Regions from separate parts of the Homo sapiens genome. Here region 2 is linked to region 1. The links come from fine-mapping of genetic effects on gene expression. A gene starts in region 1. The other region holds a variant in brackets. All regions are shown on one strand. Distances are between the middles of the regions. Region 1 holds the start of NPEPL1 (aminopeptidase like 1). Region 2 has its middle 31 kb from the start of PHACTR3.

Region 1 (5,362 bases):
TTGGGTTGAGGGGCAGTGGTTACAGGCCTCAGAGAGCACACAGTGAAAGAAATGAGGTGTGGCCCAAGTGCTGATGTGGGAGAGCTTGCCTGGGTGAAGGCGACAGCCTTCCAGAGCCAGAAGTGAAGAATGAGCGCTGACACATGAGAAAAGACAACCTGGGTGGCGCTGTGGGCTCGGGGACTGGAGGTGGCAGGCGCAGAGGCTGGGACCGCTGCCGTGGGGACAGGAGCCTGATGTCAGGCCCATCCAAGGATCTGGAGCTGGGAAATCACTTCCGGCCTTGCAGCCTCAAAAGGATCATTCTCAGCATTGAGTGAAATAACACATGTAGAAGTGCTCCCTGTAAAGGGTGCAGCAACACACATGCACACACACCACACACACACCACTCATGCACACACTAGCACTCATACACACACAGCAACACACACAACACACACACACACCACTCATGCACACACCAGCACTCATACACACAGCAACACATGCTGCTCATGCACACACCAGTACTCACACACAACAACACACACCACACATGCACACACCACACATGCACACCACACACACACACCACTCATGCACACACCAGCAAACACACACACACAGCAACACATACCACACGTACACCACACACACCACTCATGCACACACCAGCAAACATACACAGCAACACATACCACACACACACACACATCACACATGCACACACACACCCCCCACACATACAACACATGCACATACACTCATACACGCACAGCAACACACATGTGCACGCACATACACACACACGTGCATACATCACACACGTGCACACGGAGCTCACATAAACGGGCAGGGTTATTTGGAAAACAGCATGGACGTTCCTGGCACTGATTACGTGCTCAACAAACACTGCCTGTATACAACAGAATCCTGAAGTCACAGACCACGCTGAGGCAGAGGCAGGGGGCCTGGGTTTGGAAAAGCCTCTGCCGCTTCCCAGGAACCAAAGCTCCTGGGAAGGGCAGGAACCCCCTCCTGCCCCCGCAACAAGCTTTTCCCTCTCCCGACCTCCCTCCCACCTGCCCGATCTTGCCCGGGCCCAGGGGCAGTGTCTGCCCTTCCAGACACCCACCTGCAATGTGGACACCTCCACCGGCCCGTTGTCTTGTCCCACCAGGAAAAACTCCACGGTGACCGTCTTCTTCTCCAAGCGCCGAGAGGCACCTGAGCGGTGGGTGAACAGCGGGAAGGCCCGGGCCAGGGCACAGGCGGAAGCAAAGACCTCCGGCTGCTCGCAGACCATCTGTGGCACATAGGGAGACGGCGTGAGGGGTGCAAGGGCCGCCACCAGGGAGTGCAGGGAGCTGCTCTTTGAACGCCTCCGGAACATCAGCTCCCTGGCAGGTGACATCTAGACAGAGATGTCCCACAGCAGCCGCCACCCCATCCCTCAGGTCATCCCCGGAACCATGGGACCACCATTGGTCATGCTCCAAGAGAAATAACACATTGGCCACCAGATGTCAACAGCCTGACCAGCCATGAAAATGAGGGACAGAGGGACAGACACAAAGTGGGCCTCAGGAAATCTAGGTTTGAGTCTCTGATTTGCCACCAAAACTGATCTGGGGCAAATCCCCGCGTCTCTCTGGACCTGTTTCCCTGTCTACAGAGCAGGGATGATAACGTCCACAGCCCTCTGGGCGTGCGCTGCAGTCTGAGCAGGGCTGTGAGCTCCCCAGGCCCGAGCTCACCGCTGCCCGACTAGGAGCACCGTGGCTGCCTCCTCTCGAAGCACTCACCACAATGCAGCGATGCGCTCCGGGCGGCAGGCAGGTCCGCACCAGCCGCGTGATGAAGTGGGCGGCCGAGGGGCTGTTGTGCCGGCTCACCCTGCAGGGCAGGGCAGCCACGGTGGCGTAGTTCAGGTAGAGGGGACAGCTGTCCGTGGGGTTGGGGTTGAGCGTGCTCAGGGCAGCCTGCCAGAGCTAGATCAGAAGGGAGAGACAAGACACAGAGGCTTCAAACAGCGGCCACGTGCCAGGAGGCCCTGCCCTGCAGCCACGGCCACAACCACTCCTGCAGTCCTGGAAGGGCACTGCGCAGCTCCCGGCCACCGTTTTCCCATCCTTAGGGAGATGTGTCGCCTCTCTGCAGAGCTAACTGTCTCTAGGCTGGCTCGCATCCCCCTGGTGGGATGAAGCCACCAAGCCTGGAAGGGCCAGGCTGGGGGCTGCTTTGCTTCCAACACTCGGATAGGGCTTAGGCGGCTTCCACCAGAGAGGGGGCAGGGGCCAGGTGTCCCCAAGGAAAGGCAGCTGGGGACACTGCCATGGGAACTTCTGGAAGCCAGGGCCTGTCGCCAGGCGGGGCCGACGCGCGGCCCTGGGAGCGGCCACGTCTCCCCCCCCGCCGTCCGCAGGTGTCGCGGCCTCGCGGGGCGCAGGGCTGGGCTGACAGGAGGACCACCGCGCCGCACCGGCGACGGGGCCTGGGGCTGGGCCTCCGCGGGCGAGGACTGGCCTGGCGGCTGAGCCCTTCAGGGAGGCGGCCCGGCCTCGTTGGGCCCGGCCCGGCGGCGGCGGGGGTGCGGCGGGCGAGGCGGGGCCTCCGCGGGCCGCCCGGGCCTGGGCTTCCGCGGCGCGGGTCGCATGGCGGCCGGCGGCCCGCTCACCTCCTCGGTGACCCGGGGCTGCAGCTTCCCGCGGACGTGGCTCCAGGGCACGCGGTGCAGGTGGTGCAGCTGCCCGAGCAGCAGCAGGGGCCGGCTCTGTGGGTCCGAGTCCCCCGCGCTCGCCTGGAACTGCAGCCCCACGTTCGCCATCTTCCTGCCGGCCCACGCCCCGGCCCTGCCCGGCCCGGCCCGGCCCGCCGCTCGGCCCCCTTCGCCCCGCTCCGGCCCGGCCTCGGCACCGCCCCGGCCCTGCCCGGCAGCCCGCGGGCCCCGCCTCCCCCGCCGCTCCGGGCTGCTCGCGAGACGTGCAGGGCCCGCCCGGGGCGCGAGGGGGCGCCGGCCAGGCCGGGCGGAAGGGTGCGGGCAGGCCCGGCCGGGCAGGCCCGAAGCCGGCCCCGAGCAGGCCCTGCCGAGTAGGGCCCGCGCGCCCGGCCTCCAGCGGCGCCGCCCCTGGGCCTAGCGGCCCTGCCCAACACGCGGGGCGACGTGGCCCGCCAGGCAGCGCCTCCCGGACGGGCCTGGCCTCCAGTGGGGCCTGGGCCGACGTAGGCCCAAGCCCACCCGACGCAGTTCCGCCCGGTCAGGCCTCAGGCTGGCCCCAAGCAGGTCCCCCGAGGTCCCTTAGCAGCTGCTTTTGATCCCCAGGGACCCCGCACCCTGGCCACCCATCAGTTAGGCCGGAGGGGCCCAGTGACTCTTGGACCTGAGTCAGGTCCTTTTGTCCCACTGCCTGGCATGGTGGGTACAGCGTGGACGGTCACTTCCTCCTCACTTAATCGGAGGTTCCCTGGCGTTTATCAGACCCCGCTCTGCCAGGCACTGCCCTGGATGTGAGAGGGTGACAGGGACGTGGCTTTCCATCCAGGGCACTGCTGCTGGGATGGCCAGTTACAAATCCAGGCACTGCCTGGCTGCATGGGGGGCCTTCCCGCCCACCCCTTTGCAAGAAGGGTCATCTGGCACAGTCTAAGCAGGAAAGGAGGGACGAGATGAGACGAGGAAGGAGCAGGGTGACCTGAGTCACCTCAGTCGCCTTACAGGGGAGGAAAGGCCATCGGGGGTGTGGGGCAGGAGCCGGGTGGTGGAGGAGCCAGGGGTGAGCCTTGAGTGGATGGTGGAGGCGGAGGGTCCCACCCACAGGGTCAGATGCAAGGGTCAGGGAATGACGATGCATTGGGGAAGCTCCACCCAGGAGTCATTTAAAAGCAAAAATCTGTTACCCAACATCCTGATTGCTCAAGGGCCTTTGGTTGGTACCCTCCTCTGTTACCTCCATGTAGTTCCATAAGCCACTCCTGTTATTTTGAGTTTCTTCTTCATAACCAGCCTAAAAATGAAAAAAAAAAAAAAAAAAAAAGAAAAGAAAAAAAGAAAAAAAAGCACTGTCAACTCCCTGGCGTGGTGTGAGAGGTTTTCCACCACTGACCTCCCAGCTGGCCCCCTAGCTCCCTAACTTGTAGCCCCGGGAGCCACAAGCCAGGCTTTCACCTTCCCTGTCCACAGGCTCCAGGTCTGTCTGCTCAGCTCTGAGCCATGGTCCCTGGCCCCTTGGAAACACCACAGACTAGAGCTTCAGCATCCTGAAGGCAGGTCTTTTTGACTTTTTGTTGTTTTTTTTTCCTCCAGTTCCTGGCACAGAGCAGGCACTCAAAAAAAAAAAAAAAAAAAAAAAAAAAAAAAAAAAAAGCTGTTGAATGACTGAAAGGCATTCCTTTGAAACCCTCAGCTTTCCCGACATAAAAGTCAACGCTAATTGGATCTTATTTTCTTCAAAAGATTTTACAGCAGCTGAATGTTTTCACACATTGGTAAAGGGTACTAACAGTGTGTATGAAGATCTCTCACTCTTTTTTCTGTTTGCAAATACGTTGCAGACAGGCACACGGCACTCCAGAGGACTGAGACAGCTGGAGGATCTTCCTAGAGGGTGAGAGACTAAGGCCATGCCCTGACAGATGTAATAGGACTTCCACAGGCGAAGAGATTGAGAAAGAAGGCCTTCCACGTGGGAGAAGTCCTGGGAGGAAACACAGACGCAGAATATGTCCAGCAGGCTCTGAAACCTGTGTGGTTAGAACAGAAGGTTCCTGGAAAATAGGAGTGGGTGAGGAGATCGACTGGGGAGCCTGGCTCACTCTATAGAATTTTGCAAACTGAAGAGGGATCCAAGAAGCATTTCAGAAAGCCAGATCTAGCAGGTTTGTGTACAAGGAGTTGGAAATGAGATAAACTGTTGGTGGAGAGGTCATTTTGGAGATGTTTTTCTTTTAGAATTCTTTCATATTTAAGAATAGACTGAATAACCCTGACAGTCCCCAGAAAGGATGAACAAAATGATTCAATTCAACCAACATTTGTTGAGCACTTAGTGTACACAAAGCAAGAGAAAACGTTAGATGCTTGTTAAAAGCAAATATTGGTGATTCTGGTTTTAAGCCACCCCCGAATTGAAGAAATCCAAACTAAACAGAACGCTAAGGAATTATTCCACTTCAAATGCCTGCCAATTTCCTCAAGATTCAGCTTGTGACAGATACAAATACATTCCAGGAAAGTACTTTCCCTTTTTCACTGCTGACTTTACAGACTTTAACATAAATAAGACAGGCAGCACTTTGTTTAGATAAATTTTTATGAAGGTATTAATCCATGGCTTACTATATATTTCACTGTCAATGAAAAATTCAACTCTATTTAATTTTC
Region 2 (5,362 bases), 880 kb before region 1:
ATACACTGCATCCCATTGAGATGATTTGTCCACCCATCTGCCCTGCCCCACACTGGGCTGGAATTTGAGAGGACAGGCATTGGTCCTGGTCACTCAGGGACCATGTGTTTTGCAGGCTTTGTCCCACTCTGCTGGGAATAGCATTTCCATTTCCTGCTGGAAGCCTCCTTCCCCACTCTGTGGACCCAGGGCCCCTCCCTAATTCCAGGGGAGGGCTCATGACCTAGTCCAACCAACCAGCATAGATCATCCACCTGACCTCAGGGGCTGGGCCAGAAAAGTTGGTTCACAGAGGCACACATTTGGGACTTTGCTGGACTGGGAGAGAGAAGCCCATGTTATCCACTAGTCCTGAGAAGGATGGTCTGAACGTCCAGGGCCATTACATGGCTCAGAATCAAAAGAACACAGAAGAGGGAGGAGCCTGGACAGGGAGGTATCAGGGGCTGCTGGCATTGTCCGTGTGAGCAGCTGGTTCCAGCTGTGCCCGAAGGCAGCCCTATGGAGGACTGGAATTTTCAGTCCCACCCTCCTTGCCATTTCCTTTTCTCCCTAGCCTTGGTGGGGAAGAGGTCACTGGAGGAAAGAGTTAGGAGACAGAAATGTTAGCATGAAGACAAATTCGAGGTGTGCTAGGAAAGGTCTCTCTTTCTGCCGGCCCTGCCGCCTGTCCACGGGCCAGAGCCTTCGTGGCCCCTGATCTGTTTGCACATGGATCTATTGGTGACCTACAGAATGGGGCTTCACATGGCAGCCCTCTCAAGTACACACTACCAAGGACGCTGACTAACCCCGTCTGAGGCCAGCAGACACTGTTGGCCTCCTTAGGTGTGGCCTGGGTTGGGCCTTTTGAACTCTGAGCAGGTTTCTTCAGAAGAGGATGCAGAGGGGAAGATGAAGCCTAATCATTCATCCTCACTAAACACTTCCGATGCGCCAGGACCTGTGCTAAACACTCCATCTGCTTTATCCCAGTTCATCTTCACAAAAATCTAAAGACAGCATTATTCATTATCCCTAAGAAAACTGAAGCTCTCAGAGGCTCCCCGAGGCCCTGCTGCTAATATTAGGACAAGCCAAGCTCCAGGCCTCGTAACTGGACTCCAGGACCTGTGCGCTTCACCAGAGCCACATCACCCCTGGGTGCTTCTAGGGCAGAGGACAGGCTGGCCAGGCCCAGCCCCTGCAAGGAATCCAGAAGGGCTGAAGGCCACCCCATCAGCTGCTCCCTTGGGCCCAGCAGGACCCTCAGGGCCAGCCCTGTGGGTAACATCCCTTCTTTGTGAGGACCCTCCAGGGTGTCCTGAATGTCCATGGGTTGGTCTGGGCCATGGGAACACAGACCAGCAGGAGTCCTGCTGAGAGGATCCCCCTCGGCTGTAGGGCTGAAGTCTAGGACACAGCAAGGGCCATGAGGGACAAGGGGTATTGGTCTTTCCTGCAGCCACGTGCAGTGGGGCATCCACTTGGCTAAGCCACCTAGCCCCACGTTTGAGCCCCACTCACTCCAGGGACTCTTTCAGTTCCAATGGGCTGAAATCCAAGTCCTTCTGGCTGGAGCAGAAAAGGTACCCCTTGGCCACTGGAGAGACCAGGAGGAGGGGTGGTGACAGACATGGCTGAATCCGAGAGTTCCACTACCAAAGCTTCAAGGGGCCACCTCCTTCCTTGGAGCTCCAGAGAAAGCACCAAGCCGAGTTTGCTTGGACCTCCTCACAGCACCTCTCCCCAACTCTGAACTGGTCCTCGTCACTAAGGGATGGGAACTACGGGTTAGCCAGGCTGGTGGCACGGAGGAGGATGGAAGTGGGGTAGGATCAGCTCACCTGAACCTCCTCTGCTGAGGCCTGGGGAGAGGAGGTTCTCCAAAAGCTGCTTTGGTGCAGCTGCCTAGAAAGGGGGAGAGCTTGGGGCAGAGCAGACACCAGGCTCTCCACGACACTGCGCTTCCAGGCCAGGCCAGCTCCTCATGCAGAGCCCGAGTGGGGGTAAATGGCCAGAATGACTGCGATGAGAGCTGCCTGGACAGGCACAGGGCCCCAGGCTCAAAAGGGCCCAGACTTGGCTTCCCGCCCTACCACCACCACCTTGCAGCTCTTCATAATTTTTGAATAAGGGAACTGTACTTTCATTTGCATTAGACCCCTGGCAAATTCCGTAGCAGGTCATGGCTGTGAGTGACCTCCCTGGACACACACCAACCCAACAGCAGTGACTTGCCAGGTTCACTGTATCTGTCTATGCTGGGAGTTTCTTCAGCATCCTTATGACCCGCAGGAACCAGCTAGGATACCTTCACAACGTTTTCCCTGCAGGCATGGAGTGAGGACTAGGGGTGATTTCCTGTAAGCCTATAAAACCCGGTTGCCCTGCAACTTGTGGACAAGTGAGACTTGAGTTCATGGAACCCAGTGTATGTATATATGATACAGACCTCTGTGTGTACAACATCACAGCTCGGAATGACCCAAAGCTTTCTCAGTGTTGGTTGGCAATGTACCTGAGCTCCACAGGGTCACTAGGCTGCCTCAAGGATCAGTAAGAGTGCTGCAATTGATTGGCAATGTCTGATAAGGGCAAGGGCCAGCAGAGTGGGGCATGGGTGCTACATAGTTACCAATCTTTCTGCTGTCTGGGAGGAAATGAGGACTCTGCTTCTAAGAGCTAGAACACTTAAAGAACATGTTGGGGTAAAGGCTGGCTATCACTGAGGGCAGAGACTGTGTGTAATCACCATTCAAAATCCCCAGTACCACACAGACTTCGGTTCATGGTAGATGCTCAATAAATAATTAATAAAGAAAGATCTAAAAGGCACCACAAAGATGAGGTTTTACCATAAAATGATGAAAATGGTTTGGAACAGGTAGAAGTAGTGGGCGCACAGCATTGTGAATGTCCTAAATGCCACTGAATTGTTCACTTTAAAAGGGCTAATTTGGTATTACACAAATATCACCTCAAATAATTATTTTTTTTTA[A/TA]AAAAAAGGAAAGGGTGGCTTATGCCTATAACCCCAGCTGCTCAGGAGGCTTCAAGCTTCAACTCGCTTGAAGCCAGGAGTTCAAGACCAGTCTGGGCAACATAGCGAGACCTCATCTCTACAAAAAATTTAAAAAGTAGTTGGGTTTGGTGGCGCAAGGCTGTGGTCCCAGCTACTCAGGAGGATTGCTCGAGCCCAGGAGTTTGAGGCTGCAGTGAGCCATGACATGCCACTGCACTTCAGCCTGGGCAGCAGAGCAAAACCCCATCACTAAAAATCATAAACACATAATTAAAAAATAAACTAAAATAAAGGAAAGAAATCCTCCTTTTAAAAAAAGCCACTGTAAGTTACTCAGAGTGACTGGAATGATCCCATCTTCTTCATCATTATCATTCCAGTACAGTGCAGTACAGTCTTTTCTTTTATAATAAAAATCAATGACACGTTTGCCTTCTCTCCACACACACAAATTTTCCCTCCAAATCTTCCAGGGGCACTGACCCTAGAGGAGAAGACACTCAGCCCCTCTAAGCAGCCCCTGGGCTGCACCCCGGGGGCCCCAGGACGCAAGACACCCAGACCTGGGCCTGACCCCAGAAGAATTCTCCGTGAGCGGCCTGCATCCCCTCATCCCAGGCTCCATCCCGCATCCCTGCTCTTGTTCCTTTCTCCTTGCGTCATCCCCGTCTCTCTGGGTCCCCGAGGTCGCAGCTGCTGCTGAATTTTGTGAATCGCTCTAAACTGCCTTAAATCCTCTTTGAGTCACGTGGCAGATATCCAGGAGCGACGGCTGTTTTTTCTGGGGCAGGCGCTGTGGACTGTGGGCTGGGCTTGTCCTGGCAGCGTTTCCACCCTGCCTCAGGGACCCCTAACCCTGGGCTTCTCAGCATCTTGTAGGAGGGGACACAGGTCCAAGGTCCCCCGGGCTGTGGGAGACGCCTTGCAAGGCCAGACCCTCGGCGGAGCTCTGCCTCCAGCTGTAGGATTCTCAACCGCTCTCTCCTTCGTCAGCGTGCTGACTGAAGTTAGGAGTCTGAGCGGTCCACTTCCCCCTGGGAAGCCCGGGGTGGGTTTCTGGATCAGCTCTGCCGGCAGCACTGGGGAGAAGCGGGCAGAAACCTTGGGTATTTATTTCCTGGAATCTGCAACCCAGGGAGGATCCAGACGCCCTCTAGTGGCCACTAGGACGGGTGCAGGCGAGCCTGCCCAACTCTCCCCAATTCTGGTGGGTGGGAGGTGCCCCTGCTAGGGGTTCTCTGATGTGGGGGCTGTGGTCAAAGGAGCCTGCAGCGGAGGCATGCAGGTGCTGGATCCCTTTGAGCTTTCTAAAATTCATCCAGTTTTTCATTCTAGTCAACATGTGTCTATATTCTTTTCATACACATCACTTTCTCACCAAACAGTTAAGTAAAAATCAATGCTCTGGAAGATGCACGGTGTGTACCCAGGGGCTTCAAGGGCCACTTCCGAGCACCCCAGGGTACCCACCCTGCAGCATGGCCCAGAGCCTCCTGTGAAGAGCTATGGCCTGTGCCGGGCAGGACTCTGCTCTCCCCACTCCCTGGTCCTGTCCCAATTCCCCGTCCTTGCCCCGATGCTTCTCACTTCTCTGACAGTCACCTGCTGAATTCAGGTGTGGGTCTAAGCTGCTTTGAACCGTCTTTGACACATTGTGGGACTATCCATAAATTGTTAAAAACAAATCGTCAGCATGTAAAATGGTGCAGCTGCCTTGGGAAACAGTCTAGCAATTCCTCGAAAAGCTAAACATCAAGTTGCCATATGACCGAGCAATTCCACTTCCAGGTATGTACTCAAGAGAACTGGAAATATTTTTCCCCAGAAAAGCAAGTGCATGGCTGTTCATAGCAGCATTCACCATAATAGTCAAAAAGTGGAAGCAACTCAAATATCTGTCAGCTAATGAAAAAGTCAGGGGTAGTACCCTAGTCCCTCAGTACCCATGGGGGGTTGATTACAGAACACCCAGGGATACCAAAATCCACAGATGCTCAATTTCTTTATATGAAATAGTGTACTACTTGCTTATAAGCTACATACATCCTCTTGTATCCATTAAATCAGGGATATCCAATCTTTTGGCTTCCCTGGACCGCATTGGAAGAAGAATGGTCTTGGGCCATACACAAAATACACTAACGATATCTGATGAGCTAAAAAGAAATTGAAAAAAAAAACCTTTCATAATGTTTTAGGGAAGTTTATGAATTTGTGTTGGGCTGCATTCAAAGCTGTCCTGGGTCACATGTGGCCCACGGGCTGCCCTTTGGACAAGCTTGCTTTAAATCATCTCTGGATTACTTATAATACCTGATACAATGTAAATAGTCATTATGCTGTATTGTTTATAAAATAAT

What was found. PIP is the estimated chance that this variant, and not a neighbour inherited with it, causes the effect.
Region 2: its variant is fine-mapped to the expression of NPEPL1 in testis (GTEx, PIP 0.95).

What each region holds. Positions count from the first base shown.
Region 1 is chr20:58,690,348-58,695,709 of GRCh38, reverse strand. NPEPL1 (aminopeptidase like 1) reads right to left here and starts at 2,910. Exons shown (of 12, transcript NM_024663.4): 1 at 2,660-2,910; 2 at 1,788-1,973; 3 at 1,118-1,288. The coding sequence starts at 2,809. It overlaps STX16-NPEPL1 (STX16-NPEPL1 readthrough (NMD candidate)), which reads right to left. Exons shown (of 23, transcript NR_037945.1): 9 at 4,483-4,676; 10 at 4,148-4,305; 11 at 3,930-3,986; 12 at 1,788-1,973; 13 at 1,118-1,288. RefSeq lists enhancers at 724-1,331, 2,772-3,477 and silencers at 2,395-2,484, 2,505-2,584, 2,615-2,774, 2,785-3,274.
Region 2 is chr20:59,570,515-59,575,876 of GRCh38, reverse strand. No RefSeq gene overlaps it. Among named protein-coding and RNA genes, the nearest start is that of PHACTR3, 31 kb to the left of the region's middle. RefSeq lists an enhancer at 3,246-3,787. The variant A/TA (reference allele first, on the strand shown) is at 2,982.